Regions from separate parts of the Homo sapiens genome. Here all the other regions are linked to region 5. The links come from fine-mapping of genetic effects on gene expression. A gene starts in region 5. Each other region holds a variant in brackets. All regions are shown on one strand. Distances are from middle to middle.

Region 1 (6,270 bases), 93 kb before region 5:
AGAGTGCCCTAGGTATGCATATCAGGAGGTAGTACCTGGGATATTTGTGACAAGATTTTGACACTGTGTGCTACACGATGGTGAGGCTTTTCATTCCTTTCCCAGAAAAGCACCATGCAAGTTCTCATAGGACTCAGAAATCTGGACATCAGAGAAAAGAGAACCTGCAGTTCTCACCAGGGACTCAATGACCATCCACTGCCAGGCACTATTTGCCAAGGTACCCAGCAAAGCCATCAAGCTCTCAAGCTTGTGCTGGAGTCATCAGCGGCAGGAACCGCTCCAGTAGCAGAAGCCAGCTCACATCCAGCTATACTCAGCCCAGACTTCCTAACGGTATCACATCATAAAACCATCGTGCATCTGGCACATATTTAAGGCCAAGTTGGCAGTATTTGATATGAAAAAGAAACCAAAGACTGAATTAGCATCCCACACGGTTGTTTTTGCAAGTCATAGACATAGTGCAGAGGCATGTGGAGTGGAGGCCACAAGACGCCCACGAACCTTTCCTTAAATGAAAGCTGGGCTGCCTAGAGCCAATGAACCCTTGGAAAAAACAAGCCAGCAAACAAACAGAAAACTCACAAAAACAACAACCAAAACCTCATGCTTTGTTGCCTTAACTTTCGCTTGTCCCAGGGAAGATCTTGTTACCTGGAGACTCTTTTTTTGGCTTACGTGGAACAAGTATCAGGACTATCCTTCAGATGGAAACTTAAGATAGAAAAAGGATCTACCTCTTTCCTTAACCTATAATTCCAAGTCACTTTTAACTCCGGCTTCCACAGTGAGTGAGGTCTCATCTGAGCAAGTCTGGAATGTTGAGGGGAAACCCAGCTTTCAGAAAACAGTGCTTTGCACTAGAACACAAATTGATCATTTACAGGGGGCTTTCTAACTGCATTCCTTCTCTGGAGCATCACCTTCCTGAACACTGAAGGAATGATTGGAAAGTTGTTTTGAGAGCACAGAACAGGAAGGTGGAGGAATGAGTACAAACAGTTTTAAAGGATGTCTAATTAATGTAGACCATGACATAGCTATGTTGTGGTAACTAGAGTTACTGTAGCTATCTTATTTTTGAAATCAAATTCTGGTAGCATAGTCCGATAATATTGTACAAATATTACAAACATTTATAATCAGAAATTTTCCAGAAAAGCAGGAATCTATGTGCTTCTTTGAAAGTAAACAAGAAAACCCAGATATATTAGAAACGTCATTCCAAGTCAGACAGAATACAGAAGCCACAAAAAATTAATAAGTCCAATAACAAAGAAAAAAATCAATGAAATCAAATTGTAAAAAAAAAAAAAGCCTGTATGTGGAATGTAGCATAGTCTCAAAATTACTATTTCCTCCTTAACTTTCCTCATACTTTCCACTCATTTGATTACTGCAAAATACTTGACAAATAGCAAATTTTTTGAACTTAAACATCACGCCCACAAATTAATGATACTGAATTAAAAGAATGATCTTTAAAAGATATGAAAAAGACAACTTTTGCAGGAAAATAAATGCAAAAAGCAAATAAGCTTATAAGATGATGTTCAAAACCATTTTTAAAATGTCAATCAAAACAACGAAATAAAAATAAAAATGTTCACCAAAAAGATTGTCAAAAATTAAAATTTCTGAGATGCCACAGTGTTCTGCATAACTGGGGCCCCTGTAAACATTAACATTTTTGGAGGTCAATTTGACAAAATTGAGAGTTAAAAATATATGTTCTCTTCCACCTAGAAATTTTTCTACTAAGAATTTAACACATAGTCATGAAAGTATCCCCCAAGATATATGTAAACAGTGATCATTTTAGCATTATATGTAACAGAAAAAATTGTAAGCAAACTAAATGTCTAGCAATATGGGACTGATAGATATCTGTGTATCTGTACAAGAAAAATCTACAGCATGGTCTAAAGAATGGGCTATACCCATGTCCTGAGATATTAGGTCAAACTAGCAAAACAGTAATTTCATATGGTTCAACCTAGAAGAAACGTGTTCTAGACGTATTATTAAGAGGGGGAAAGTAAGATGTATCACTATTTGGAAAAAATATGTTACTGTAAAGTGTAAATCATTATTTGTATTTTTTTAAAGTATGCATATGGGTGAAAGTGTATACTCACTACTCCCAGGAGTATACAAGAAATATTTAACAGTGACTATGGAGTTAGGAGCGCGGGGAGTATTGCTATTTCTCATCTTGTAGCTTTCTCTACAGTTAGATTTTTTAAACTAATTGTACATAATACTTTTACCAATAAATAAATAAAATCCTGCTGTCAAGTTTGCTAAAATGCTATTCTGCGAGAAGGAATTAAACCAGGCTTCAGTTTAAAAGAGCTTGTCATCTGGTGAATGGCAGGGCCACAAAAGAAGCTCATTACCATCTCCTTCAAACCCAATGAAAGGGGTAAATTTGGTCCTTGAGCATAAACAGTAATTATCCATGCATTTCCCTTGCAACTTCTTTATAAAGATTTCAAGAGAATGAATTACAGTGGATTGAGTTTCATGTAGCAGTGTTTGCCCAATACAGGTGAGAGTCTGAGCTGTCTTTGATCCAGATGGCATAAATATACAAAAACTGCAACAGCCAGGGCACATTTCTCATGAATTCCTAAACCCACCAAAATATAAAATTTACCAAGGGAGGTAAAATTTCCACATGGTAAAATTCCCTTTCTTTTCCATGTGTGGCTCAGGAGAGCAATGCCTTCTATCTTGAAAATAGATATGAAATAAAATGCATAGACAAATCTTCTGGTTTTAAAATAGATTACTTGTGATCGAGCTTCTCTTTTATCATTTGGGATATTTTAAAACTTTTACTTAAAGATAAGTTTAAGCTTATAGAAAAGTTGCAAGAATAAAAATACGCTCATATAATCTTTATCCAGGTTATGTATTGTCCCATTTGCTTTATTTTTTAAGGATTGTAAAAAATCAATTAGGTTTTTTAAGGAAAAAACCTAATCCTACTAAATGAGTTTGGAGGCCTTGATCCAGTAGTGCCTCCTCTGTTATTCCCTTTTTTCTGATTGTAAATAATTTGTAGTTGGTCACGTTACTGTCTTAAGATAGCCCTTATGCCTTCTGGAGCCACCATTTCATCAGCACAAGGGTGGTTTTTTTCTCCCTATCTTTTAATGCTTTCATCTTGGAATTAAACTGATGTTTTGTAAATAGGGCATACCTCATTCGTTTTGTAAGTAAGGCATACCTCATTCTAAAATATTTTCTTTTTTT[T/A]TAAAAAAAAGCATGTCTTTTGATAACCCATTTTATTACATCCCAGTGTCAAAATTCCCCAAATTTCTTTTCACTGGTGACCAAATTGCAAGAAGAGCTAATGCACTTGATCATGCATCCTAAATGCAAATCATTCCTCATGTCATCTATAACATATAAGGGGAATATATCACTTATGTGTGTATTCTTAAGATTTAGAAGGAATGATTTGCACATGAAGATGTCAGCAAACGAATATCCAGGCATACAATGATTGCTTAATAAAATAACTGTTAATTGATAAATGGCAATGCTTAAAAGTTACAGGTAGGGGTATTTAGTAAGAATTGTATGCATCTGAACATTAGTTTACTTAACTTATAAAAGTAAGTCCAAGTTTCTAATATTATCTAATCACAAACTTCTATCTCTTATTTGACATTTAATATAGGACATAAAATATTTTTAAGAGACCTATGAATTTCTAATCATGTACTTATTTGGTCAAATAATTGTATGTGCTTTTGAGACTTAAGCAAAAGTTTAAGTGTTCTGGGATGTATTAAAAGGGTTGAAAGGTGAACAAGAACCCAGAAAAAATGCTTAGGAAATACTAGAGAAACAATCACACGGATTATAATGCTAAAATTAACAATTGATGACAACAAAGGCTTTTAAGTAAGAGAACACTTGGAACTAAAAATAAGAATGCCATAGGAATTAATAATAGTGTCAGAGATGAATAATCCACAAGTTTGATTATGAATATGAATTTGCATATGTGACTGTGGAAGGCTATGATGTGAGAAATATATTGAAGTTTTGAGTGGTACAAAACAATTCAAAACAGAAATACTCTAAATACTGCCATGCTGCACAGCTCTCATCTGACCCACTGCCTGACATCTCTAAGTTTTTAAAAGCAGCTTATAGGAATAAGATTGCTGAAGATAAGCCCTTTAGAACATAACTGAAAGTACAAGCAGGCAAGGCATTGCCAGGGGTAGACCCCATCCCCAGAATCCAGTTATGGCCATCTGTACTTTGCTTTCCCAAAAGTTAGATCATTGTATTCACAAGGTGTTTAGTATCAAAAGGCAGGAAGTATACAGCACTGTAAACAAATGAACACATATGAAGAGTTAACCTTTTATTAATAACTATTGACAAGTAGTAATAGTGAATTATAACCATCACTAAAGCACTGTTAATTTATTGTCCTTTTGCAATGACTGTGATATAGAACCACATAGTAAGAAGACAAACCTTATAAGCTACCATCATTAAATTTAAATATTTAGGGAAGCATTGTTCTTCAAATTAGCACCTTGGAATTATATAAAATGTGAAATTAACAATAAATTATTATGCATAAATACTAACTACATGTTATGTAATATTAAATAGAATATATTGTTATTAATTCTAACATTAATTTTCTACCCACTTATTCTACATTGTTTAGAGACACTATCTTTTATATTTATCAAAACAACTCTAAAATATAGTAACTAGCACTTTGGGAGTACCCAAAATGTACTAAAAATGATAGCAATAAATTGTCATTTTGATGATTAATTCTACCATTCACTTTGTGCCTATTTTTTTTTTTGCCAGATATTACAGTAGGGACTTTATAAAACACTATATTTATTAATCATCAATAAAACCCTACACAACAGTAATTATTATCTTACAACTGAAAAAACTGAGACTCAGAAAAATAAACTGCCACATCCAAGAACTCACAGTCTATAGCTGATGGCACAAACATCTTATTGTTTGATAGAACCACTTTGACTTAATTCAATTATACCACCTCAGATCCACTTTTGGTATTGCCTGAACTAGCTGCAGAATAAAATTAGACTTTTTATTGTCACACTGTCCTTTGGTGCTCTCTTTTTCCATCCCACACTCATTTTTTGCAGCGGGTTCCAGGGAGATCTGTCTTGCATTCATTCCACACCTCCCTTCCCGTGGAAGTGCCTGGAAGTGCAGACTCTGGGGGTAAAGAAGATACTGTCTCTCTATTGCTCTGACCAGGATTGATGCAAGCATGAATGTGTGGCTGAAGTCAATATGGCCAGAGTGACTTCTGGGGATTCCCTGAGGATTCTGGAACGGGGACTCATTCTCTGAGTGATGCAGGGTGTGGATTTGGTGCCATGAACACAAAAGCACACAAAACAGGGCTGAACTGAGAGACTGAGAAGAGAATCCTGAACCCTGAACAAACCAAGCTTGAAGCTTATAAACCTTCCAGATGTGAAAACTGACACAACCCCATATTGTTTAAGCCAGCTTGAATTGGTCATCTCTTATTTATAAGCAAAATGCATCCTGATAAACTCTCTTGCTTTTGTGTCCAGTACATCATTCTCTCCCTACCTCTTTGTAATAAAGATGAGCTTACAAACCACATTCTGAGCATACCCCCAAAAAATTTCATGCCGAAGCTGTGGTCCCAGGTCTGTGGAAAGAAGGGAACAGATTGGCATACACCATACAAGCTGCAGGCTATCATAAGCCCTATAAGCAACACTGACCAAAATTCAGATAGAAATTTCAGCTGCCAGGAATCCAGTGACTGCAAGTTAAGAATCACCGACACCATTTCATTTAATTGACATCTTTCTAAAAGTTCTTACTTAAAGCAACCTTTCCTTCACCTTATTCTATTCCCAGATTCTCACTAATGGAAACCAAGGCTGGAAATCAACATCCAAGTTCATATTTTATAGTTTCTCTGGAACCTATTGACCAAAGATCAGAAAGGAAAATGAGGTCCAAATCTAGGCCAGGATAGAATACTAGTTCCAGGATCGTATTCTAAAACCTACGCTTTTCCACGTGAACAGGTCAGTAGTCAAGAATTAAAAATAAAAATAAGGAGATTTCCTTCAAGCATTTTAATATGTTGGAAAAAAAGCATTGCTAGAAACCCTATTGTTTCATTCCAGGGGTATCTATGGCAACCATTTTGAGCCACTAACTTTAAAGATAGTTATGTGTCACCAGCTGACA
Region 2 (6,270 bases), 190 kb before region 5:
TCAGAATATGAAATCCACTAGAGTAAATGATACACATGTTTATTTGAGCCCTAATCTGCCATGGTGTCTTATTTTTGTGGACTGCCAGCGGTTATCATGGGATAGTGGTGGTAGGCAGCAGGAGATTGGCCTAGGCCTCTCATTGATTAAAACATAAAGTTTAGACTTTTGATCTTATCACCAAGTTAAGTCATATACAGTCAATGTGTTTGTGTGTACCCATGTATATGTGCGTTAACTGTTTATTTGTTAGACACAGGCATTTAAAATATACCACATTTTAATAACCCTGAGTTGGCATTTCCTCATTTTAAAATGTACTTGGGCTCTCAAGCCATAAGAATTTCTTGTTCATTTCTTTACCTCGGAGGAATTCTGATGATTACCCTGCAATACAGTGGTAAAATCCATGCCACGGCTTCTACCTGCAGGTCTAGGAAAGCATCTCTAGGGGTTATGAACTTCCTCTGTTATTAAAGGATTCTCTAGCACCAAGTGGGTTCTGAGGTAAGACCCGCAGAGATCACTTCACTAGGTTTCTTCATTTAATTCCCACAATAGTCCTATGTAACTACTATTATCTCAACTTTCATATGAGGAAGGTGAGGCTTAGAGAGACTAAACAAGACAGTAAGTGACAGAATGTTATTCCAACCCAGGCAGGCTACCCCCAGAAACCAAGATCTTAACTATTAAGTCAGATTTACATTAAAGTTAATACAAATTACTGCTTATTTCACTTTGAAACATATTAGAAATGACCAAGAATTAAATAACTCAAGAGGAACTACTTACTTTTTGTTGTTTATATACTATTATTTTAGTGTCTCTGATTGAGGATGGCTAAATAAAACAAAAAAAATTTTAACTTAATTTCCTAAAATTTATGAACACACACATGCATATACATAAGACACACACTATATACATGAAATTATCTACTCTTATACATACACACATATATAAAATGACATAATAATATAGTAAAATAATTCATGTAAGAGAATTCATTTTGATGTAGCATGCAAACATCTGACTGAAAAGAAGTAGAAAGGTCAGAATATATTTTATAAAGAACGCATAAAATTGAATAACAACAACAAAGCCCAATTCAAAAATTGGCAAAAGAAATGAATACACATTTATCCAAGGAAAATGTACAAATAGTTGATAAGCACATGAAAAGATGCTTAACCTCACTAACTTTTATGAACATGCAAACCAAAACCCACAATGAGATGCCCTTCATATCCATGAGGGTGGGCATTATAAAAGCAGAACCAGACAAGTGTGGACAAGAATGTAAAGAAATTGGAACATTTGTGCACTGTTGATAGAAATGTAAAATAATGCTACCACTGTAAAACACAGTTTGGTAGTTCCTCAAAAATTTAAACACAAACTTACCATATAATAGACTAATTCTACTTGTGGATATGTATGCAAAACAATTGAGAGTAAAGATTCAAATGGATGCTTGCATGTCAATGCTCATAGCAGCATTATTCATAATAGTCAAAAATGATAACAACTCAACTGTCCGTCAACAGATGAATATGTTTTTGAAAAAATCCAGGGGTATATTCATACAATGGAATATTATTCAGCCATGAACAGGAATGAAATTCTGACACATGGTGCAGAATGCTAGAGAATGAATGAACCTTGAAAACATTATGCTAAGTGAAATAAGCCATACATAAAAGGAGAAATATTTTGTGAATTGACTTATATGAGGAACCTAAAATAGTCAAATTCACAGAGACAGAAATTAGCGCTGTGATTGCAAAGGGCTGAAGGAAGGGAAGAATAGGACTTATTGCTTAATACATAGCAAGTCTCTGTTTGGAAATAATAAAAAGTTCTGGAAAAGAATAGTAGTGACAGCTGAACAACACTGTGAATGTGTTTTAATGCTACTGAAGTGTACGCTTAAAAGTGGTAAAAGTGATACATTTTATGTTATATATATTTCACTACAATAAAAATTAATAAAATAATCAGTAGTTCTATTAAAGATTCCTTTTGAAATAGTAAAAATAATATCTTCCAATTCGTAAAATCTTTTTATTACATTCTGGCCATATCATTGGCCAGGATACTTCTAATTGGGAAGTTCAGCTCTTCACTGAATAAAGAAATCTTGATCTACCTCACATAGTCTACTTGCTTGTTCTCTGTACATTTAAATTATAGTGTTACCACGAAGAGGGAAAATTATACCCTAAGAATAGGTTCATTCACTATGTACTGTCTATAACACATTTATAGCTGCATTCTTCCCCCACAGTACATGAAAAGAGAGGAAAAGAGAGAGAGAGAGAGAGATTGAAAAGCATCCAGAAATGAATCATATTGAAAGTTAATAGCCTTTCTCATTTTTCATGCATCCTTAAACTCGAAGAGGTAAACCTGAAGGACTGTATCATAGCTCTACACTTCCCAGTGGTGACAGACGAAAATAAAGTTTGACTCAGCCTAACAGGAAAAGTCTGACTCATTAAATTCAAAGCCCTGACTCTCTGCAGAAGGTGTTTGGAGGAAGCCCTTGATGTGTTGATCCCTAAAAGAGAAGACTAGCAGGGGAATGATCTCACCCACCCACCACGCACTGAAGGAAAAGATGAATGAACCCATCACTATGTTGATATTTCGAGGATCTCAAAATACGTCTGTTGATATTTAAGGAATATGTTTTAAAACAATCCCCATTTAGAATTTATAAGATCCAAAGGTAATTCTGTCATATGCAGATTTCTTAGCTTGCTTTCTCTAAATATCATTGCCCAAATACCCCAGATATTCTTGACTGTATATGTAGACAATCATGGGAGAAAATAATTTACTAAAAATGGTCTAAATCCTGTTCTATCTCCCCATGGCTTTTTGTGTCTACATTAAGGAGAATAAGAACTATCCATTCCTGTAGCTTCTTTCACAATAAGGGAAAGAACAGGGGGAAGTAAATAAAAAGCTTTGCTCTATCTTACGTAACTTGAGGGAACTTGCCTAAGAGAAGGCTTCTCTGTTAACTCTGGTGAGTTTTGCAGCCTGAG[G/A]AATGGACAGATGTGATAAGCCAGCACAAGAAAAAGAAGTTCAACTCTCCACTCACACACACATTCTCTCTTTCCAGTTTCTCCTTTCTTTTTGCCACCTGGCTATTCCTGTCCAAATCCACTGACTCCCAGCTTCAGTGCGTAGGGAAAATGTACCCTCTCTCATAAAACCACCTCATTCTTTCACAAGAAGAATCCTTCTTAAAATACCAGGAATTCTCACCAAAGTTTTCAGAAGTATAACAAATTAGAATTATCATGGAAACTACAGTAAAACAAAATGGACTATTTAGCTTCAGTTCCAGGCCAAGTCAAAGAGAAGAGGTTTGCAGGGCCCCAGGCTAACTACATTCTCTGCTTTCCTTTCCACGTACACCTCAAATTAGAGAGTGGCTAAAGGAGCCTGCCTCCCAGGGAAGGGGAGACAGTGGTGCTATAGGCATTGCTGGAACGTTTCAGGAGGACTGACTTGGAGTAGGGGTATTCTTTGAGGGGGGGTGGGGTTGGGGGTTTGAGCAAAAGGAACAGTGCATGTTTAATGAGTTCAAACCTCTTCCACACATTAAGTAAAATATTTTAAAAGGAAACAATATTACTCAAGTTTTATTTGTTTCAGCTACTTGGTTACAACTCCACATGGACACAATTAATGGAGGAAATAGAATATTTTATAAGCCCAAGACTCTCCCTCAATCTGTGACCAAGAGAATTTCTTTGCCTTAATCACTAGGCATTTTTTTGGGATGGCTATATATTGCCAAAATAATTATATCCTAAGCTTCAGAAAAGATTTTGCCTAGTTACTCCCTAAAAAGTTATAATGGTTCTTCCTGTGAGAAAATCAATAATAAACTTGGGGCTCTTTTGCAATATTTGCATGTGTATTTTAGCAACTCTTAATATTGCACTATTTCACATGTGCACGTACACACACATGCACACATACACATGGGTCATTGAAAGCAATGTTTCCTGTTAATCCAAGAATTGATGGGCAGACAGAATGACCTGAAAGCCCTGTTCCCAGGAAGTGAATCCCTTTCTCCAGCCTAGATGCTGTTGCTTACCAATAAAAAACAAATGGCTTTTAATTGATTGTGCAAATAATTAAACATTCTGGATACTGGACACGTTAAAAAGTAAAAGAAAGAAAGCAAAAGCAGCAAACAAATTCACTCATTTTGCCCAAATGTTAAGGAAGAGAAAACTAACCCCAGAAGTAACTGAGTGTACAAAAGCCTGTAAAGTTTACAGGAACAGAATGCTGGAGATAATAATTCATAAAGACTTTTCTGTTGGTTCTCTTTCAATCAGGTGGAGTAATGAAAGAGATTTCACAAAATCCCAAAATCAGTTTCTCAGAGCTTTCACAATTCTAATTGCTGAACATAAATTGTTTGACGATTTTTTTCCCTTCTGCCAAGGATAATCTTAAATATAATATGTGTCCTTTATTTTTCTTCTTTTACAGCCAAAGAAAACCAGAGTACAAGAGCTCTGGTTAAAGCGTGATGAAGGTGAAGTGTCAGCAATACCGGAGCAATTGAGATACGCTAGGATCTCATTGTGAGTATTACCCTCACATGTGATTCCATCCTCATGTTTTGTTCAGACACCATAAAAGGCAGCCAGTCCCAGGCCATCCGTATAGACTGTGTGAACATTCCTAATCTCTGCACAGCATGGCAAAACAAATAATCACTCCATTCACTTTGTTTCTGCTCTTCCCTTCCCTCCACCCTATAAATATGGTTTATTGTATACATAGCTTTTAGGGTCAAGTATTAATGGTGAGAACCATTAACAGGGCAAAGGTCAGTGGCTCCTGACTTCAGTGACCCTTAAATTTAATCTAGCGTGGCAGAAATAAAATTACATGTGATGAACTTACAAAGTGTGATAAAACCTGCTTTGCCCATACAATTGGGAGGCAACAGAAGAATGAAAAAATTTTAAACAGCAAAATCTTACTTGGGGATCTAGTGATAGCCCCAGAGTTAAAGGTTGACATTCATAACCAACTGCCATCCTTGAGGGCCAAATTCTGACATCTTTAGAATATCACATGGTTTCTGGGCTCCAGCAACCTTTCTGGAATTTTATCAAACACACACTCGTCTTTATTTTTATTTAGCTTTAGGTTTACTTCAATAAGAGAGATAAGATTGCATTTTGGAAAATATAGAAACGAATTTATTTAGCCCAGCTGAACTTGATCTTTCAAATCAGTCACACTTACACATACTTTTTATATCTTTTCAAATTGAGTGCTGGGTATTTTAGTATTTTGTCTTTCTCTTTGTCCACCTGTTTTCATTTAAGTATATCAATTATTGTCCCCTAAGATTTGAAACATCATTTCAATTTTTACATTTTTAAAAAATGCTAACTATACAATTTTTTCTGACTTCCTATTATTATCATTTCTCTTCAGTAATTCCTTTCCCAACATTTTTCAGCTTATTCTAAGACCAACTTCCAAGAGTCTGATTGATTTAAGTATGATTTCCTACTTTTTATTTTGAAATAATTTTATTATTTCAAATATTTAATTTCAATAATTTAAAAGTTACAAAAATAGTACAGATAGTTCTTACATACCATTCATACAGATTTCCTAAATCTTGAACAATTTATAACTTTAGAATTTAATCATCAAAATAAGGAAATTGATATGGTTAAAAATATTAACTAATTAGAAGAATTTATTCAAATTTCCCCAGTTTTCCGCTAAGGTTCTTCATGTCTCCTTCATATTTTCAGGTTTGTGCCAGTTGCTCCATCTTTCCTTATTTTTTATGATTTTTGGTGTTTTTAAGTAATTATTTTATAGTTTATCTTTAGGTTTGGTTTTATTTTGTTTTCCCTGTGATTAGACTGCTGTTATGCACTTTTGTCAAGAATAGCACAAATGTGATATGGTGCCCTTCTCTGTGCTTCATACTAGAGGTAGGTGATGTCAACACATCTTATGACTGGTGATGTAAACCTGGATCATTTTGTTTTACTATGGTGTCTACTGGATTTCTCTGCTCTAAAATTACTCCTTTTTCCTTTATAATTAATAAGTATCTTGTGGGCAGATACTTTGAGACTATGCAACTATCTTGTTTCTAGTCCTTTTTCCTCCATACATCTTAGCATCCATCAATGGTTCTTGCCTGAGATAATTATTATTTGTGATTGCTTGATGATGACTTTTTAATTTTTTTCA
Region 3 (6,270 bases), 120 kb before region 5:
CAGTGTTTCCCTTTCATTTCTTGTGTGAAGAAAGGAAGTAACTTGAGAAAGCAACTTTTAAGAAACTTGAAACACGTTTACTTGTTTCCCAGGCTTCAGGTTAGGGCTGATGGCTCCACAAAGTAAGTGCAGCCAGATTCATGAAACTCGTAACGTTTTGGAGGTGATGTCTAACTGACCGTCTCATTCTACAAATGAGAGCACTAAAACCTTGGAAAAGCTAAAGCTTGCTGGAGGCCTAAGTGATTTCACAAACAGAGCTTGTCTGGAACTTAGTACTTTTAATTCCTAAGCCAGTGCCTATGCCCTAAGCCAATAGGTAATCCAGTGGGCAGTGGTCCCCAAGGCAGGCCAGGCCTGAGCTACTGATAACCCTCTTTATCCCAGTCCTGTGAAACATCAATTTCAGTTAATGCCAATAGCTTCAGGGGCAGTTTTTCAAAGCCCTCTCTCCAGGACATCAGCCTGGATGCAGAGCACAGAGAAATAAAATAATTTACATAGTTTACTAACTCTAAAACTCAGAACTGAGAAGAGAAAGGGCCAGTTTTTCCATATGCAGACTTCAACCTTCTCAAGACCCAAATGACAGGTAAAAATACACATTCGAATGTCTCTCCTTGCACACACACCGTCAAGACCACTTTGCCTTCCCTCTTTCCCAAAGCGAAAGAATGGATATGCTGGGAGTGTTTGGTAGCCTGCTATCAGAAGAAAATAGAGACATCATCATTTTCCCTTTTTGACATTTTTTTTTCCTGCCAGTAAAAGAGAGAGAAACTTGCTTAGGGATCAAAATATTAGCTGGAGAAAGAATTTACAGGGGTGCTGGCAGCTGGTTGGCTGTAGAGGGAGAAAGCCTGTGGGGTGTGGACCGCCAGTCTCGGAAAAGCGCACTGCAGAGCAGGGTGCAGGAGAACCCAGCAAAGCAGGATTTGACAGGTGCCTGGCTCAGGCTCCCACTGGCCAGGCAATCGTCAGCTCTGTTCTGCTTGGCTCTCTTAAACAACAAGTTAAGAGCCAGCTGCTTTCTGCGCTTGGCTCTGAAATCAGCAGGTCTCTCTGCTCTGTTCAGCGGAGGCATCCCCAGCAGGGAGTTAGTCAGGGTACTGGCTAGAGCCTTCATGCCTCAGAGTAAAGGCTTATGAAGGAGGTAATTACGCAGCTGGAAATGGGCAGGCCCTTAGGGCAAAAGAGAAAGAAAGGAAGGTGATCTTCTCACTTACTTAATGCTTAAAAGAAAAAAAATACCCTATGCCTGTCAAAGAGAAGCATCCTAGTATTAGTGGTGCTATGATCAGAGATCCCCTCTCCCTTACCCATTGTGTGGTTACTAAATCAACACAGGAAGCCTGTCCACAAGACTTCAATGTCAACATTGCCCGCCCCTACCTGACCACCAATTTTGCATTGATTAGCTTCCATGATTCCCTGTCAGGCAATTTAGTTGTTTAGTTGCTGGTTAGTTGTTTCTATTTTCCTGAGCATTCTTCTCAAACCTGTTCCCAATGTTTATACTCTGGAGCTACTGACCACCCTTTCCTTTCCCGAACTCTTCCACTGTCATCAATTCCTCGAGAGGTCAACATTACTGCGGGCAGAAGGAAAGATGGCTGACCCTGGCCCTGGACTTCCTTCCCTCTGACACACTGAATACCCTTCGTCAAAAAACCATAATCCAAACTGCAATGTTGGTGCCTATAAGAGAGCTAGTCCCGCTCTCCTCAGAGAGCCCAGCTTGGAGATTTCTGATGTTGAAGTTACCTGCCAATTAGAATGGCCACATTGCAAAATCCACGTGTATTTTACACAGAACAGCCACTTCAGATCTTCATTCACTCAAGGGCCTGCAGTTGTATCTGTTAAAGGTGTCACAATAAATGAACTCATTAAAGTACCACTCGTTTTTTTGATTTCTTGCAAGGTTAGCAATTAGAAATTTTTTTCCTTAGCTTCAGAAAACGTTCTTTAAACAAAAGCTTGCTTGGAAGAGATAAACTGGCAACTGCTCTGGTTGAGGAAGAAGTAGTGGGGTATTCTGTGCTCTGGCCCTTAGTCCCGTGAAGCATGATTTAGGAAACTAATTTGTCCTAGTGTCTCCCTTTTTTTTTTTTTTTTTTTTTTTTTTTTGAGACGGAGTCTCGCTCTGTCGCCCAGGCTGGAGTGCAGTGGCGCAATCTCTGCTCACTGCAAACTCCGCCTCCTGGGTTCACGCCATTCTCCTGCCTCAGCCTCCCGAGTAGCTGGGACTACAGGCACCCGCCACTACGCCCAGCTAATTTTTTGTATTTTTGGTAGAGATGGGGTTTCACCATATTGGCCAGGATGGTCTCCATCTCCTGACCTCATGATCTGCCCGCCTCGGCCTCCCAAAGTGTTGGGATTACAGGCGTGAGCCACCGCGCCCGACCTAGTGTCTCCCATATTTGAACACTTCTTCCTTTCATGCTTGCCTCTTTGGAATATTCGTTTATTTCATAAAACTTAAGGCTATTTTGACATCTTTTAAAATTGCATCAAACAACTTTACTTTCTCCTCAAGTTATGTTATGATTGTCTGTTGTTACTCAATGCAAAA[T/C]AGTCATTTCCCATCAAGTTTCTTTTGTTTCCACTCAATGTTTTCTCTCCAACTCACCAGCATTTCCTAGCTGCCATTCTTTCTCTTCCCAATTTGACACTCTTTTCATCCAGCTTGGTCTGGCTTCCAAATCACCCTTTCTTAGTACTTTCATCCTACAACAACATTTAATTTAGTATTTTGTGGTTGAAATGATCCAGAGAGGATCAGAGAATTGGAGTGACTTGCCTAAGATCACACCACTAATATGGCAGAGTAAAGACAGAACTCAAGCTTTTCAACAGCTTGGCTCCCCTTTCTTCCTCTTTTGTTCCTCTACTGGCTCTTTAGTTCTCACTCTGGTCCACATGTGTATAGACCCAGTCAATAGTTTCTATGGATATCCTGACTGCCCCTATAAAATAAGTGGGTTGCATTAGCAATTTCCAATGTCATCTTTCAGCTTCATCTTTCTATGAGGAATGGGAGTGGTTAAGATCATTGACACTGATCAAACCATTCAGGCTTTATTCTAGTAGAGGTAAAACTCTTTTGACAATTCTTAAGTATACAGGTAACTTTCTATTAAACGGTTTCCTCTTGCACATACTTTGGTCTCCAGCCCTAGCCAAAACCCAGGCATGCAGAACTGGCAAACTGCTTGGAGGAAGACCTTCCAAAGATCTCAGAAATTTCAAGAAAGGCTTTTGTGGTATTTCTGGCCCAGCCAGAATCAGGAAGTACCTGATCACTCACAAGGAAACTAGTTTTTGCACAATTTCCAACATCTCCCCCCACAACCCCCACTTCATCCTAAAGCCTTTCTTGAGCCACACATTCCTGCCCCTTCCCCAAACACAGGTTTCTGCAGAGTCAAAACTTTTGATAGTTCAGATAAGGTTCAAATGAGCTGCTGAACTCTTGGAGGCTGGAAGTGAACCTAGCATTTTGTTCCTTGCTCATCCCCGGTAATGAGTATACCAGGCTGGCTATGTCAAGGTGGTTTGGGTCACATAGTGAAAATCAACATAATTGAAAGCATTAATCAACAAACAATTACATGTAATGGTACAGAATGACTACTTATGAGGCCTTACATGATTCTGACCAAATCTGCCTATGGTAATAACAGGAGGCACACAACTGTACCAGAGGGTTTTTGTTTTGTTTTGTTTTTTCAAGAAATAAATGCTGAGGGCTTGCTTTGGTTCAAAAAAAAAAAAAAAAGAAAGATGCTTTCAAAGGTAGAGATGAGGAGAACAAGATTTGTGTTATGGAGCCAATGAACTTCAAATTATCCTCCAAATGTAAAGTATATTCTAGATATTTTACTGGGTAGAGCGGGAAAAAAGCTTCAACACATTTCAAGTGGATGTTGCTTTGAGTTTTTCTTTAAGATGCTTACTTTAGAAGACAGATTTCATTATGCTTTAGTTGCTTTCAATCATTAGAACTTTGGAGTTGATTTTGAAATACTTATTTCTTGCATGAACTTGGGGAAGTAGGGGAAGCAATTAGATCTTGTGATTTTTAAGGCTACACTGAGGATAAGGTAAGAAAATATCATAAATTTTATTTCATGCTTTCTTGCCAATTGACAGAAATGTGCAGTCCATATGAATTCATATAACAAGGGTGGAATGTTGGAAAAACCAATAAAGATTTTGTGGTCTGACCTATAATAAATGTAGTTTGATTTAGAGTCTGTTTTTCACAACATGGCAAAATGAATCATAAAATAATGGGCCCTGAAACTCCTGTACTTTTTAACAATAGCCTGGGGACAGTTTACTGTGTAATGAATTGTAATTAACCCACCTTCAAAATATTTTATGAGTATTTTGCCAATTAGCTTCGCATGCTTGCTAATGACTCATGGCTAGTGCATGTCTTTACAGAACCGGATTTTACAGAGCACATCGCCCTGTTAACTCAGCACAAGTGTGCAACATGGGAAGGATGACATAGGTAGGTTGGAACACCCTCAACAGCATCCCTACTTTGCCAACCCAGTGGACTCAGCCATCATCCCCCAAGCCTAAGATAATCATAATGGCTTGTGGTGTCAGAGAACTTTGGTTTCTGATGGATTGCAAGGAATGCTTCTCTCCCTGCAGACACATCTGTTGTTACTTAGCACTAACATATATAATGCTACTAATTGTGGAGCCATCTTTGTTTTCTTTACTTAGCACTCTGGTTAGCATTATTTTATCTTCATGGTTCATGGATTTCTGCCACTGACAACATAAGTCCACTCTAGAGAAAATAAAACAACTACCAAGCTGTCTCCTTACATTGCTTTGCTTTGAAATTAGAGGGATCGTGTACAGCCAAGCATGCTTCCTAGGATTCTAGCTCTGATCTTGCTATGTCAAGAGTTGGCTTTTCCTTGAAAAACTAGTGCTTCCACTGGCCTGTGAACTGACTAAAGGGACTGCAGAAAGAAGCCCAGTCTGGCTCTAAATTCCATGCACTGAGAAAGTTAATCGCAGGCAAGGTCAAACGTTCCCAACTCTTTGTTCTTCAGAGGCCAAGCCAACAAATTCCAAAGCCAATTTAAGAGATCTAACCAGAGATGGCAAAATAGTTCCATTTTCATTTCATTCAACTATGAATAAAGAATCTATAAGGATTAATTAAGGATCTATATAATTAAGGATCTATAATGTCACCAGTGTTTTTTCTGCCAGCAAGGTCGTATACCATAATAAAGATATAGAGGCTAATTTTCAGTAGTATAACACAATAATGTAGTGCTTGGGGAAATCTAAACTACACAGGAATTATTTCACCCTGATGCCTAGAAAAGTAAACAGCAGCTTTTAGCCTCACTCCTTAAGGCAATGGTGGTCTAAATTGCAGGGAAATCTTGTTACATAAAAAAGGCTACTCTAAAGAAGGCCAAAGACAAAGGGGAAAAAGTTTGAGTTCCTCCTGAGGGTTCTGCTTATATCCTAGGGGGTATTGCCTCAGCAGGAAAGTCAATATGGTCCCACTTCCCTCAGTGAAGAACAGGAGATGGAGTAAGAGAGGAAGAGAACTCGCTGCAATACTTCCATCTTTTGGAATAGGTATGATCCCAGCAAGACATTTCTTCTCTTGCTGGGAGGTTTAAGAGTATTCTTCTCAATTTCCCCTCATTTTCTAGGCCCAAATCCCTCACCCATTAAAGAACCAAATAGAGGCATGAGATCTCTCTTGCTAAGATGAAATAAAAATGACTGTAGTTCTTGGAAGCATTAATTTTTACTAAGCCCTCATCATACACAGAGAAGTGACCTGAAGGGTTAGGTAGCTTCTTCCTTGGCTCTGGACCTCAATCAGTTTATGAAGGTGGCCCTTAAGCTGCAGAGAAGGAAGGCATCCAGGAGCTGACTGAAGTATGGAGGCCTGCATAGGCCAGTGGCCTGAGGAGAAGGAGATGGCACTATGTCTGCAGAATCTCCATCCTTAGCCTGGTCCATGGCAGCTGTAGCTCTAGTCTATGTGCCTCTTACCCTCTCCCATTTGGGGACCAAGACTGAACATCTTAACCAGACAAGTCATTTTTTATCCAGCAGCATATGAGTGATGAGCTGAATCAACCAGGGTTATATCTCTTGAAAATCTTAATAAAGACATACACAGACTTTTGTTAACTCATGTTGGACAATGTAGAAATTTGAAAGCATAGAAAACCAACTGAAGGAAAGCAAGAAAGAAGAAAGAGC
Region 4 (6,270 bases), 980 kb before region 5:
ATTCTAGTAATCTCAGTAAGAGCAACTGTGCAACTGAGTTGTTGGGACTAAAATGTTGGAATACAGATATCCCAATTTTTTTTTTCAACTTTTCATTACTCAGCTCACAGTACAAAGTCCCAGGACAGAAAGTCCAATATGTCCAGCTTAAGCAATGTGTCCACAAAGTTGGCAAGGAAGGCCAGGCACCTTGATTTACAGCTTCACCAGCTTGGACCTAATGAGAGGAAATAATTCTCCAGAAGGCTGTTACCAAAAGAAGAATGTTGGACAACCACAAGGAATCCTTCTCCAGGTCTCTATGAAATAAGTTTAACCAAAAGGCAAACTCAGATATTCAAGACGTAGTGTTATAAGATCCACATAAATGATATTTGTTGTGGATCAGTTTCACTCATTTATATCTACATGAGTCTGGAGAGGTGAAGGCTTTTGTCCTGTTTTTACAGATAATAGAAAAATTGAGGCACAGAGACATGTAGTCAGTTGGTAAAAGTCACAGAGGTGACAAATGTCAGTGCTGGGGTGCAAACTGAAAACTGTCATTTTATTACCATACACATTCATGCCTACCCATTCTTAAGAAGTTTAAGAATGTGGGAGAGAACCAGTGAAAGATGATGGATGTTGCAGGAGGCAAATGTTATTTGGGGTAATTGGAAAGACCTTTAGACAAGGTTGGGACCTGTAAAAACATAGTAGTGCAAGGGAAGGCTGCAGTAAAATATATTTCAGGGAGGCAGAAAGGAGTGAACAAGGACTTAGGAGCAGTTGAAATGAATCAGTGATGGCAATATTGGTATGGAGGTCAGGTAGGGTCTTGGATTTGTATTTTACTTGCCTAGTAATAAGAAACAGTCAACATTTTTTGATTGGGGTAAGGAATGGAAGCACCAGGAAATGTGTGTTAAAAAAAAAGTAGTCTGTGTCTGCCTGTTCTATTAATGGAGTGAGTGGGGCTCTGAGAAAGGAGCCGACCAGGCATTGAGCAGCTGAAAGAAAGTGAAGCTAAGGTAACCTGTGCTAGTGAACTGTGGGTGAGGGTGGAGGAGCACTGATGGGATCCAGCTGCTGAATGGATGTTAGGGATGGTGGTAAGGTGAAGGGAAATGTCAAATAAGTTTTAAAGGTTTTGAGCAAAGAAGGCCATCTGATGGGAGTACCATAGTATGGACAAGACAGGAAGAAGAATAAGCTTGGAGGAAAAGAGAGATGGTCAGTCTTCTGCAAACGGAAGACTGATGCCTGGAAGAATAATGTAGCCTAGAAATAGAGTTGGGAAGTTATCTCTGTAGAAATGATGCTTGAGACATAGCATGAACCAGAAGTGAGCTTTTGAAGTTACACACTTGAGAAAGGATAGCAGTGTACTAGTGCAGCTTTGGAATGCTCCCTAAAATTAATCTGACCTTGATGGTGTGTAAAACTCAGGGCTAATTCAGAGTTAATTTTTATATTAAATTTCTTCTCATTTTTAAAGCAATCATCAAAATAACGTTATTTTCTGTTTCAAACTAGAAAGATTTCAGATGACTGGCATATGTCCCTTTTCTTAATTGAGCCCATCATTCCTTCACTTCAACGAACTCTCCTATATGTGAATGGAGTGCATAAAAGGAAAGGATTTTGAGGAATTATCTTTGCTACAAGCAGTAGTTACTGTAAAATAGCAGAGCTGAAAAATAAATACCTCAGAGCTTTATATTAGTGAATTACCTCATTTTTATTGATGAATTGCCTCATTTTACCTCTGTGAAACTGTGTTTTTCTAGCCACTGTTTCTAAAGACATAGGAATTCCCAGGAGTTGGCATCAGGAATCTAGAAAAGACCAATGTCATCTCATAGAAAACTCATGAGCTTATCTGGTAAGAGAAGGGAGGGGCTTCACACGACATGCCTGCCTTTTTCCCTCCTAGGTGCTTGTGATATTTGTTCTTGGTATCATGTATAGAATGCTGGTGTGTTTGCCTCAAATCCAGATTGTTAATATTTAGTTGTCAGAAAGATAAAACTATGATTCTTATATAAATATAGGATATAGTGCAGTTCTTATTAACTAGTTCACTAGTTTATACTAGTGAACTAGTATAAATTAACAATAGTTCACTTATATAACTCATCCAGAAATATGACATACCTGGTTCAAAGGGCCTTTGAGGATTAAGAGTGTATATAGTCTATCAGGAAAGACATATTAAAATAAAATTTTACTTTTGAAGTTAGAGACAAAACAGTTTAAAGAGCTATTAGGCAATAAAATCATAACCTTTGGGACTGTCAATTCAATCAGAAAAAAAGTAATTTGCACTTCTATAGGATCAATATTTTAATTAAGGTAACTGGTAAACTCACAGAGGCTGGGCCCTGATCAAGTACAAATAGCAAATCAAGTAAGGTTTATTTTCCTAGAGGAGAGCAAATGTTGACAAATTACAGTAGACCAAAATCCACTGGCCACTT[G/A]GTTTTCTAAATAAAGTTCCTTTGGGACAAAGCTACACCCATTTGTTTGTTTCCTATGGCTGATTTTGTGCTACAAAGGTAGAGCTGAATACTCATGACAGAATATATGGTTCTCAGAGCCTAAAATGTGTACCATATGACCCTTTGCAGGAAAAGTGTCTTGACTCCTGGCCTAGAGAATGAAATAATCCTTGGGTGGGCTGGTAAACAATGAACATGCAATAATCCATTTACCTGCTCGTACATTGTGGATAATTTCTCCCAACAAGGGAAAGAAATGGAAATCTTGACAAGGGAAAGAAATGGAAATCTTGACAAGGGAAATCTTCTAGTATAAGGATGAAAAACAACAAAGCTCAAGCTACCTGGTGTGCAAGGTCAGGGGTCATGTCTTGACTCCCAGTCATAATCCAGTGTTAAGAGTATCGGTTTCTTGTGTATATTCTAGTGGGAAGAGAGAGAGAAGGAGACAGAGAGAGAGAGAGAGAGAGAGAGAGAGAGAGAGAGACAGGGTGAGACAGAGAGAGAGAGAGAGAATGAACTAGAGAACTGTGAGTGTGGATATGATTTCCTTGCCTCAGCCCTGCAACTCAGGACAGTCACAGAACATGGGTTGGCTAAGGTGTCACTCTGGGAGCCAGAAGACCTGCATTCAGACAGAGGCTCATTGTTTTAAGGTTTGTATTTAGTTTGGTTCCAGCGTGACCTGTTCTTTCAGCTCCTCAAACACTCAGCACCTCCGTTCTCAGAAACAGCCACAGAGATGAACCACATTTTCTTCCTACAGAAACACTGAAGTCAAGCTCAGAGTCTGCTTGCTTGGGAGGCAACATGCCTTCCCAGTTTTAGAAGAGAAGGTGGGACCAGATGACCCCTGCTTCTCAAAAATCTCCATATGTTTTTATAAGCATATTTAAAAATAATGCTGTTTGCATAAACATATATGCTACATTAATTTCCTTTTAAAAATTATTTTAAAAATATGTTATTGTATAACCAAGAAAACGAAGATATGTCTCTCCCTCTAAGGTCTGGAGATAATGTACCATTGTCAGAATACTTAAAGGTACCCTAATTTTCCAAACGTGAACTCTAAACAGAGGATACTAAAAAGAGTCATTATAATCATTGCATTTAGATTCCTCAATATTTAAGTCTGTGCCCAGGGTACAATTGTTGAGTGCGGCAGGCAGATTGAGAATTTGGCTGACATATTGGTATTTCAGTGGGAGGATTTCAGAGCTTACTTAGAGAAATACCTATAGATGTCATCATACTAATGACTATCTGCACCCAAATAAATTCAAGTGGGCAGCACTGTTAAGGTCACATAGCAGAAATATATTCATTCTAGAAGATCTAGATATAGTACAACTTTATTTAACTTCAGATTAGTGATGAGTCTATACTCTTGTTAGTGGAATAACCATGTAAATTATCATTGAATTGTCAAATAAAGTCCTTACAGACATTTAGAGTTTAATAAGATGTAACTTAAAATCTATAATGGTTGTGCAGTCCCAAGAATAAGGTGTGATAGAACTGTTGGATTTCACCATGTTTAGAGCTCTTTATGCCCAGGGAGAAGACATGTATACTCCTTAAGAGGCAAAGAAATGGCAAAATTTAAATGAGATCACCTCATGTTGAAGTTGCAGACTTTGTTATATATTGTGAATCCAGAAATTTATTGGACTAGTGGCCACTCCTTCATGTAATTGTGGGTTAATTTATATAGCAACTATAGACTGAGTTTAGAGCATCCATTCATGTCTACAGTAAGAATCCGGCCAACTTGTTGAACAAAAACTCCATGTCCTTATTACCCTAAACAATACTGGAGAGGCATCAACCAAAATTATATGGCATAATATAATAGTTTATGTAATTCCAAATACTATACTTGGTTTAAATCTTTGATGGGAAACAGTGTCATTTAACTGGGATGGGGACACTCTTCCTCATTTAGTAGGTAACTTTTAACCTCAATGAGATTTAGAAAATTAGGGAAGTGTTTAGGAAATTTAAAACCATAATATTAATATTATCTCATTAAGAAATCTGTGTTAGGTTAGTATTTTATAATTTTCTAATATTTAAGAGTATTTAACCTAGTAGAGCACAGAAGAAGTCCAGTTTTAAAATTTATAATTGAACAATCATTTAAATTTTTTGTTTATAGAATTGGAATATTTAAGAGTATCAATGTTTCACCAAAATTTTAATTTAATTTATAAAATTTATATAAATTAGAGGTTAACTGAAATATGTAAAAATTAAATAACTAAATATTTAAAATGTAGTTAAAATGCTTAAGATATTTTAATACATTTATTTATAAAAACTATTATTTAAAGGTCCTTTAAAAGCAATCACTTTTAAACACTGCTAGAGAATAGGATTTTCAAGCTAAACACAAAATAACTTATAAACTAGATTCTTGAAGTTTTCGTATTAGTAAATTCAGTATTACTTGGTTGAATGCAAAATGAGCCTCTGAATAATCTTTTCTGCATATAAAAATTATACTTAAAAATATCCCCATCCCAGTCTCCCATATGACATTGCTAATTTTGGAGATAAAGAAATGGAATCAAAAGGAAGTAAATTGCTTTGACAAAGATCAAAGATATGGAAGAGAAGAGCTTAAAGTCCCATCTCTGGACAGCCAATACATTTTCTTTCCAATAACATTATTTATTAAGACATATTGTATACAGGTGATATAGTTCGTTTATCTTATTGATTTATTATTTCAGATTGTAGCTATTTATTTCTCATATTAATACCTCAGTTCTTTGGGATTTGCATGGTGTTATTCTAACTCTGTGATTTCATTGTTATAGTTTTCTAATGGTAATTATTTGTGGGTATTAGAGAGACCAAATGGATCATTTTCTTAAATGAATGGGTAGCTTAACTCCTCTACATTAAAATGTATAAGTCTATCAGAATTTGAAGTGCAAGAAGAATTCAAATAGAGCTTCTACCTACACTAAATGACATCAAAAGCAGAAATAGAGTTTCAAAAAAATCTGGAAGTATCAAAAGTAATTATTGGCAGCCTGTGATTTATTAACAGCCACATTCAAATCAATCTTGTTTGTAACAAACTTTGTCACATTGAAATGAAGTTAAGGTGGCCAATGTCCAACACATGCCCTTTGTTGGCTGGAGGTTGGTAAAGAGACTGGAGACAATTTGCTCAGGCAGGAGAATCCATAAACTCTCCTCACTGGGCCTTGCCTTGGAGATCAGCATTCAGGAAAGGGGGTTATACACTGGATTCCTTCTTATATGACCTAGTAGTTTGATAGTGAATTAAAAAATCAGTTATAACAGATGGACTCACACAGATGCAAATATATATACATACTGTGTGCATTTTGAATTGTATAATATGGAAATATTCAAACATATCTCAAGGTAGAGAGAGCAACATGGATTCCACAATTATAGGTATTTCACCATTCTCATTTCATCCATCTACACATAAATGCATTCACATGCACACTTTTCCTTCTGCCTGTAATATTTTAAAGCATGTCTCAAATATCTTATCATTTTATGTATAATCTTTTATATTTCTGTATCTGCATGTGTCTTTAACAGAAAATTAAAATTAAAAACAAAAAGCACAGCCAGAATATCTTTTTCACACCTAGAAATTAATGATAATTCTTTGAGATCTTTTAATGCCTAGTCCATGTTTAAATTTTCTCAATTGTGTCAGAGATGTCACTTTACATTTAGTTTGCTAAATTAAGATTTAAATAAGGTCTTTATATTGTGTTTAGATTCACTGCTT
Region 5 (6,270 bases):
AACTATAAATTAGAAAGACTTTGGGGCCCTGGGCTTTGATTTTTCAATACTATCTCTGAAAACTCTGCCCTTGGCTCTGTCTACCCTAAAACCCTGGCTTAAGCGGCAGATTTATAGAGCAAAAGCTTCCAAACAGACTTAAAGAAATCTCAATCTGCCTCCCTTTTTCTCCTTTTCCCTCTGTGGAATTCTTGCACGTTTAGCTGACTAGAGGCATGCCTTTTGCCCTCATCTTCCCCATCACTTGATTTCTCTCCAATTCTTCCAGGAGGAGTAGCTCTTCTGGCTGCAAGCCAGGAAGAGGGTGCGGAGTTACTAAAGGGGAATCCCTGGCTCCCCCACCACACAAGCAGTGAGTTAAAATCAGATTCAGAAACGATAGTACAGAAGCAAGAGTGGAAACGTCCGCTGGTGCCCCGGCCAAGCTGCCTCTACAGGGACGGCTGCAGTCTGCCCACGGTGGAGGGCTTTGCAGGGTGACTCCCCGCCCCCACGCCCTGCTCCATGCCTCACCTTCATGGTGGAAGCTGCGCACAGTGTTGGCTCGGCTGGCTGCCCTCTCCAACCGGTGGTCTGGGGCGGGTGAGCCCGGCTGACCTGAGTGCCTGCGATACAGGTCTAGCATGTAGGGGGGCACCACGGCGTCCCTGCTGGGGGTGGGTCTCTGTTTCAGGCCGAACATGCTGAGCAGCCGCAACTCGAACTCGCTCAGGACCTCGTCAGAGGGCTGGGATGAGGGGCGGCCCGACGACGCCGCCGCGAACTTCCTGCGGCCCAGCTCCGGAACGAGGCCAGCCGCGCCGCCCAGGAGGACCTGGGGAAGCAGCAACGCTAGAAGACAGCGGGTCCCGGCCACCATGGTCGACCTGCGGACAGGACCGACGTGAGTCACCCGAGTTCCCCGCCCAGTCCTCCCCCCTCGCGCCCCCGCGGCCCGGTCTCCCATTTGGCTGGCGTGCCTCCTCCAGGATGCCCTCCTGGCTTGGCACACTCACGAGTCTAGGTAAGACCGACCGAAGCTCAAACGTTTGGGATAATGAAGGGTCCCAAGTTCCTGAACCAGATGATTTATCGCTCCCATCCAACGCTTAGCTCGTCTGACATCAGATTTGGGATTTGCCCTCCCCCCCAACCAAACCAGCGCCAATGACTGTCACTTTTTTGTGTGTGACACAGCGCTGACAGCCAATGCCGGGAACCTGGGAAAACCACCGCTTGATCTGACACCCTGCGTCCCCTATACAAACCCAAATGCGGAGTGCTGAGCGCTGTCTGGCATATAAACACACATAAATGGTGCATGTGACTTCCTTAGAGGCACTGTATAGAACTTCCTGACACACACACACACACACACACACACACACACACACCCTTATAGCTTCCAGACCCTGTAAGCTCAAGGCCACAACTTCTGAAGCCACTTATGACTTGTGTCCCAGGCCCCTACCCTCAGGGGTGTCTCGAAAGGCAGCTCCATCCCGCATCCCCACAGTGCAGTCAAGATACACATGTATCTTCCCGGGATTACGTAAATGGTGAATATCTATTAATGCACGTGTCAGCTGTTAAAAACACAGTACCAAGTGATCCTTCAGTACTGACCCCTCGCATTTCTGGAAACAAGTAGGGAGAACCCCAAACTCCTAGTACTTTCCTAAATGGGACACGGCTCTGAGCAAAGAAACCAAGTCTCCCGGAAACACTTGAAGAATGGAGATCACCATGGCAGAGCGGACAGGTTCTCAGCTAACGGGTGAAACCCAGGGGCTACCCTCTCAAAGGGATTTCTTTGACCCAAAAAAGTTTTTAAAAAAATTAAAAATAAATAAATAAATAAATAAAACACCTCATCTAAGTGTTAACAGCTCCAAAAGTATTCCAGGGAGAGGGGAAGAAAGAGGGGTGGAAGAGTGCGGGCCGGGAGGGTGAGGCTTACGGTCGCCCGGGGCAGCTGGAAGTGGGAGCCCCTGCAGGGCTCCGTTGCACGTGGACTGGAGAGGGGTCTGTTTACTTCTGGCCTGGACGTAAGGAAGGGCTCTACCGCAGTGGCTGCCCAAATCCCCCTCCCACCCACCACCCACCCCGGGCCCTGGCCCGCGTCCTCTACCTTTAGGAGACCGCAGTCCGTCTAAGAAGCACGCGGGGACACGTCCATTGAAAGAGCGTCCACATGGAAAAACTCTGGTCAAAGGACCTGGCGCAAGGACCGAATGTCCGTTCCTTTTCTTTGCCTCCTCCTTCTCCCGGGTGCCGGCCGCGCAGTCTCTCTTTTCACGCTGGGAACAGCGTCTCAGTGTCGGGCAAGGCCGAGGAGTGGAGGGGCGGTGGGGCTCGGAGATGGCGAAGCAGGCTCCGCTGGGGCAAAGGCACCGGCGCAAAGTGGGGTGCGCAAGTTATTCTCCCTGCAAGTTCAAGAAGTCCCCAGCCAAGTGCTGACACACAACAACAGCGAGCAGGGGGAGGAGTGCGGGGCAGGGAAGGGAAGGGAGAAAGGAGAAGCTGGTGCTGTCGTCCTCCTTAGGAACCAGCGCCCGAGGGACGCGTGGCCCCGCGCGGGGCCGGCTCCGGGACTCGGGGGTCGAGGGTCGGGCGCTCCGCGCTAGCTCCGCCGCGGCCCATGGCTCGGGGCAGCCATCCTGGGCGACGCCGGGTCCAGGGAAGGGCACGGCGGCGATCTCGGTGCCAGGCGAGTTGCCCCCCCGCATCACTCTGCCTTACTCCAGTGCACCCCCATTCGCGCTCGCCAGTTGAAAGCACCGCGGCTCTGGCGCCCCGTCGTCCTCGGGCGCATTCTCCGGCGAGTCGAGCCGAGTCCCGGGCCGCCGAGGCGGGTGGCTGTGCTCTCCCCTCGCTCTCCTAGCCCTGGGGCCAAGTGCCCTTTGTGGCTAGCCTGGGGTCCGATCACACCTCGGCCAGCGCGTCCCAGGCCCCCGATCTCCTGCAGTAGGTGCTCCGCATCGCGGCGCTAGGGATCGGCTCCGGAGTCCCCGGCGCTCTGCGCGCCCGTCCGCGGCTCTGGCGCAGCCCGGGCAGCAGAGGCCACGGCGCTGTGGCGCGCTCTGCCGGGTGCTCCAGCCCGCGCGGGGTCTGCGGCGCGCGGGTGCCTCGCGGTCCCCGGTGATCCACTCGGCGCTGGCCCCGAGAACGTTCGGGTAGCCGGCGGAGGCTGTGGCGGCAGATGTGCGGCGGCGGCTGCCAGTCCCCGGCGGGGTGTGGGAAGCGGAGCGACTAGCGCAGCGCGAGCCGGGCGCAGCGCGGCGGGGCGAGGACTCCGGCGGCGGCGACGGCGGCGGCGGCGCCGTGGCGCGGCGCTCGCGGCTTTTAAAGGGGACGCCGCCTGCCGGCTCCCTCCCGGCCGCGGCCGAACACCTCCCCCTTCGCGGCGCGGCTCGCCGGGGATCCCCGAGCGGGCGGGAGCTGCGCGCAGGGGTGTGGACGGCGCGCCCGGGCAGCCGCGGCGGGGTGGGGCGGAGGGCGGGGGCGCGCGGCCGCCAAGGGGGGCGCTCGCGCCTCCACTCCCTGCTCTCAAAGGAGAGATCAGCTGGCGCGCCGGACCCTCGCGGGGACTCTGGAGGCGAAATCCAGGACAAATGCAGGGTCAGGGTCTGGCCTCTTATTTCCCCGCTGGGCCCGTTATTCAACTTTCAGTTTGAAGTTTTTCGGTAATATACGATTTCAAAAAACAAAACAAAACAAAACACCTCAATTACAGCGTATTTTGGCATAGCATAGACGTGGGATCCACGCTTCTGTTTCCCCGGAATAGGAGGAAAATTAAAAGAAAACAGCAGGCTGGAAATTGAGTGTTTTTAAACATTAATACATAGAGATGTATGTATTTACATATGTAAATGCATGTGTACAAATTTTTTTACATAAATGTGTATGCATTTATTTTCATATCCATACGCATGTAAATTTATAGTTACATAAATATATCCAATATACAAAAATATGTGCATATATTTCTATAAATATATTCATGTATGAGAATATATGCAACCGAAGGGCCACATTTCGGTTAATATGTCTATGTATGTGACATGGATGTCATCCTGCTTTACGTGACATGTGTGTAACGTAGACTGCGTGTGTGGCAGACTGAAGGATGGATGGGAGGGATTTGATTTTTTTATTGTACAATCACTTTGTGCCTTGTGATATTTATCTCACCCAGCTCAGAGGCAGGCGATTAGCAGCTCAGAGGAAGGTAAAATAACGCACTGTGTGAACCAAGCATACAGGACAATTCCAGTTTGGGACCTTGGAACCTTCTACGCCACCCTCTTCCACCAGGCCCCCAAGAAGTAGGGCTGTGACACGTGGCCAAGTCACTCCTCAGCTGAATATTCACTGAAGTCACTCCTCAGCCGAAATACTGCTCAGAGCTGCTGCACGATGAGTCTGGGGCCAAGGCTTTCTGCCCTTCCCAGGATTCCAGGAGCCCCCATGCACAGCACCTCGGGCTTGCCCAAATGATCCCCAAAACCAAGGGCAGAAAATTTTTGGAAAAGGCCAAGTTCTGCTTTCCCAGAGCTATCGGGCCTGCGAAACAGAGAGAAAAAAGTCAGAAGCAGGAGCTGGTAATAGAACTATTATCCATGTGTATTATTTTTTCGGTAGGGGAGCTAAAATAATACTAGGTTCCGCTCACGTAAATCGGATTAGCAACCCACAGAGGCGAATTAGGCACTTGCTGTTTCTAAAGGTATAAAGGTCAAATAAGGTATTTTGGAGGAAGCCTGACTACCAGGAAAATAAAAGGGGGTGGGGGAATTATTCAGGAACATGCTACTTTATTTCCTGAAAAAAAAAAAAAAGGTGCTATAGAAGTTGATTGTCACTCAGAGTCATTGCACCGCAAACAAGGAGGCAATAAAACATATCCTACTCATGGACACAGGGCTTCTGAAATTATTTCCTTTCCTATCAAGTTTAATTGAGAAGTTAACAATTGTTTCTCTCATTACTTAGATTTCAAAAACAAAACAAAACAAAACTTCAATGAGATTTAAGTAGCTTTTAAAGAGGAGGAAAAGTTGATAACTATTGGATGCACCCGAAGAAAAAATAAATAAATATCCTGTGATGACCTCAAGGATGTCTTGCAGCTTTAGAACTTCATAACCTGGTAAGTGGAAACCTTGTCAGTTTAGAATCTGAGGGAAAATGGGTACTTCTGAACACTGTTTCATGTTAGTGCTGCCCATTGCAGAATCTCTTTTATGTAGGGTGTATGATTTCTGAGGAACTACTGAATGCTTGTTCCAAGCACAACTTACATAAATTTTGGCCCTATTTTTTTTTTTTTAGAGATGGCTGCCCTCTTGTGGTGGAAATGAGTTCGAACGCTTGAAAGAAAGAAGTCCATAAATAAATAAATAAATAAATAAGTAGTCTCCAGAGACTGATTTGGGATCGAAGTACAGGATGACTGTACCTACCCGTTTTCCAGGGAAGAGCAATAGTCAGAAATGATAAATCTAAATACAGACGAGCTATTTCTTTTTTTTTTCTCTCTCTTCACTAATGGCTACCTTCCACCTGCAACTTAGAATGCTGGGTTATTTAATACTTTGGGAGAGTGTCTGTTTGCCTTGAAAATATCACTTGCAGCTAACCATTGTCAATTCTACCGTTTTCAAAGGTCCATTCAAAGTTTTTCAGTTCAGAGGGTGAGATTCAGTCTTGCTGAGTTTATCAGACTTAGTGCATCTGCCAGCAAATGTGGAAGGGGCAGAGGTGGGAGTGGGGAGTTGTTTAAGATAGGGATAGTAGAAGTTGCAAATTCAAATGCATCAGAGGGTACAGACAAGTTATGTAAAAAAGCAAAGATGACCAGATAATGATTCCACATAAAGGAGGTTGTTGCTATTCCATTTCAGTCATCTCTTGGCAGTTTCTCAGGAGATAGTGGAAATTTGCATTTGATTGTGTGTGGACAAGACTCGGGATGAAATTAACTGCTTACAGTCATACTTTAGCAATTTTAGCACTTCAGCTCACATGATATTCCATTTTATTGCATTCTGTAGCTATTAGCATTCAGTATTGTTCTTGCTAGGCCAAACATTATGCAAATCAACATTAAAATAGTGATCCCCATGTATTGTAAAGTTCACAGCAGGCATTACGTGATCCATCTACCTTGTAATTGTCATTCCATGGAAACCTGTGGCAACTGCCCTGAGAAACCCTCTTTGCTTTTTAGCATACATATCGCTTTGTTACAAGGGTGACACCCATAACCATCCCTACTTACTTTAC

The links.
Region 1: its variant is fine-mapped to the expression of BMP2 in whole blood (INTERVAL, PIP above 0.99).
Region 2: its variant is fine-mapped to the expression of BMP2 in whole blood (TOPMed, PIP 0.93).
Region 3: its variant is fine-mapped to the expression of BMP2 in whole blood (TOPMed, PIP above 0.99).
Region 4: its variant is fine-mapped to the expression of BMP2 in whole blood (TOPMed, PIP above 0.99).

Annotation. Positions count from the first base shown.
Region 1 is chr20:6,858,138-6,864,407 of GRCh38, reverse strand. No RefSeq gene overlaps it. Among named protein-coding and RNA genes, the nearest start is that of BMP2, 94 kb to the right of the region's middle. The variant T/A (reference allele first, on the strand shown) is at 3,265.
Region 2 is chr20:6,952,985-6,959,254 of GRCh38, reverse strand. No RefSeq gene overlaps it. Among named protein-coding and RNA genes, the nearest start is that of BMP2, 190 kb to the right of the region's middle. The variant G/A (reference allele first, on the strand shown) is at 3,057.
Region 3 is chr20:6,881,320-6,887,589 of GRCh38, reverse strand. No RefSeq gene overlaps it. Among named protein-coding and RNA genes, the nearest start is that of BMP2, 120 kb to the right of the region's middle. The variant T/C (reference allele first, on the strand shown) is at 2,579.
Region 4 is chr20:7,748,200-7,754,469 of GRCh38, reverse strand. No RefSeq gene overlaps it. Among named protein-coding and RNA genes, the nearest start is that of HAO1, 190 kb to the left of the region's middle. The variant G/A (reference allele first, on the strand shown) is at 2,463.
Region 5 is chr20:6,764,716-6,770,985 of GRCh38, reverse strand. It overlaps BMP2 (bone morphogenetic protein 2), which reads right to left and starts at 3,300. Exons shown (of 3, transcript NM_001200.4): 1 at 2,111-3,300; 2 at 514-866. The coding sequence starts at 859. It overlaps LOC105372517 (a long non-coding RNA gene), which reads left to right and starts at 3,502. Exons shown (of 4, transcript XR_937229.2): 1 at 3,502-3,665; 2 at 4,181-4,586; 3 at 4,978-5,134; 4 at 5,317-5,393. RefSeq lists cis regulatory regions at 2,621-2,795, 3,436-3,535, 3,542-4,332, silencers at 3,167-3,216, 3,307-3,356 and promoters at 2,246-3,405, 2,795-3,436, 2,246-6,270.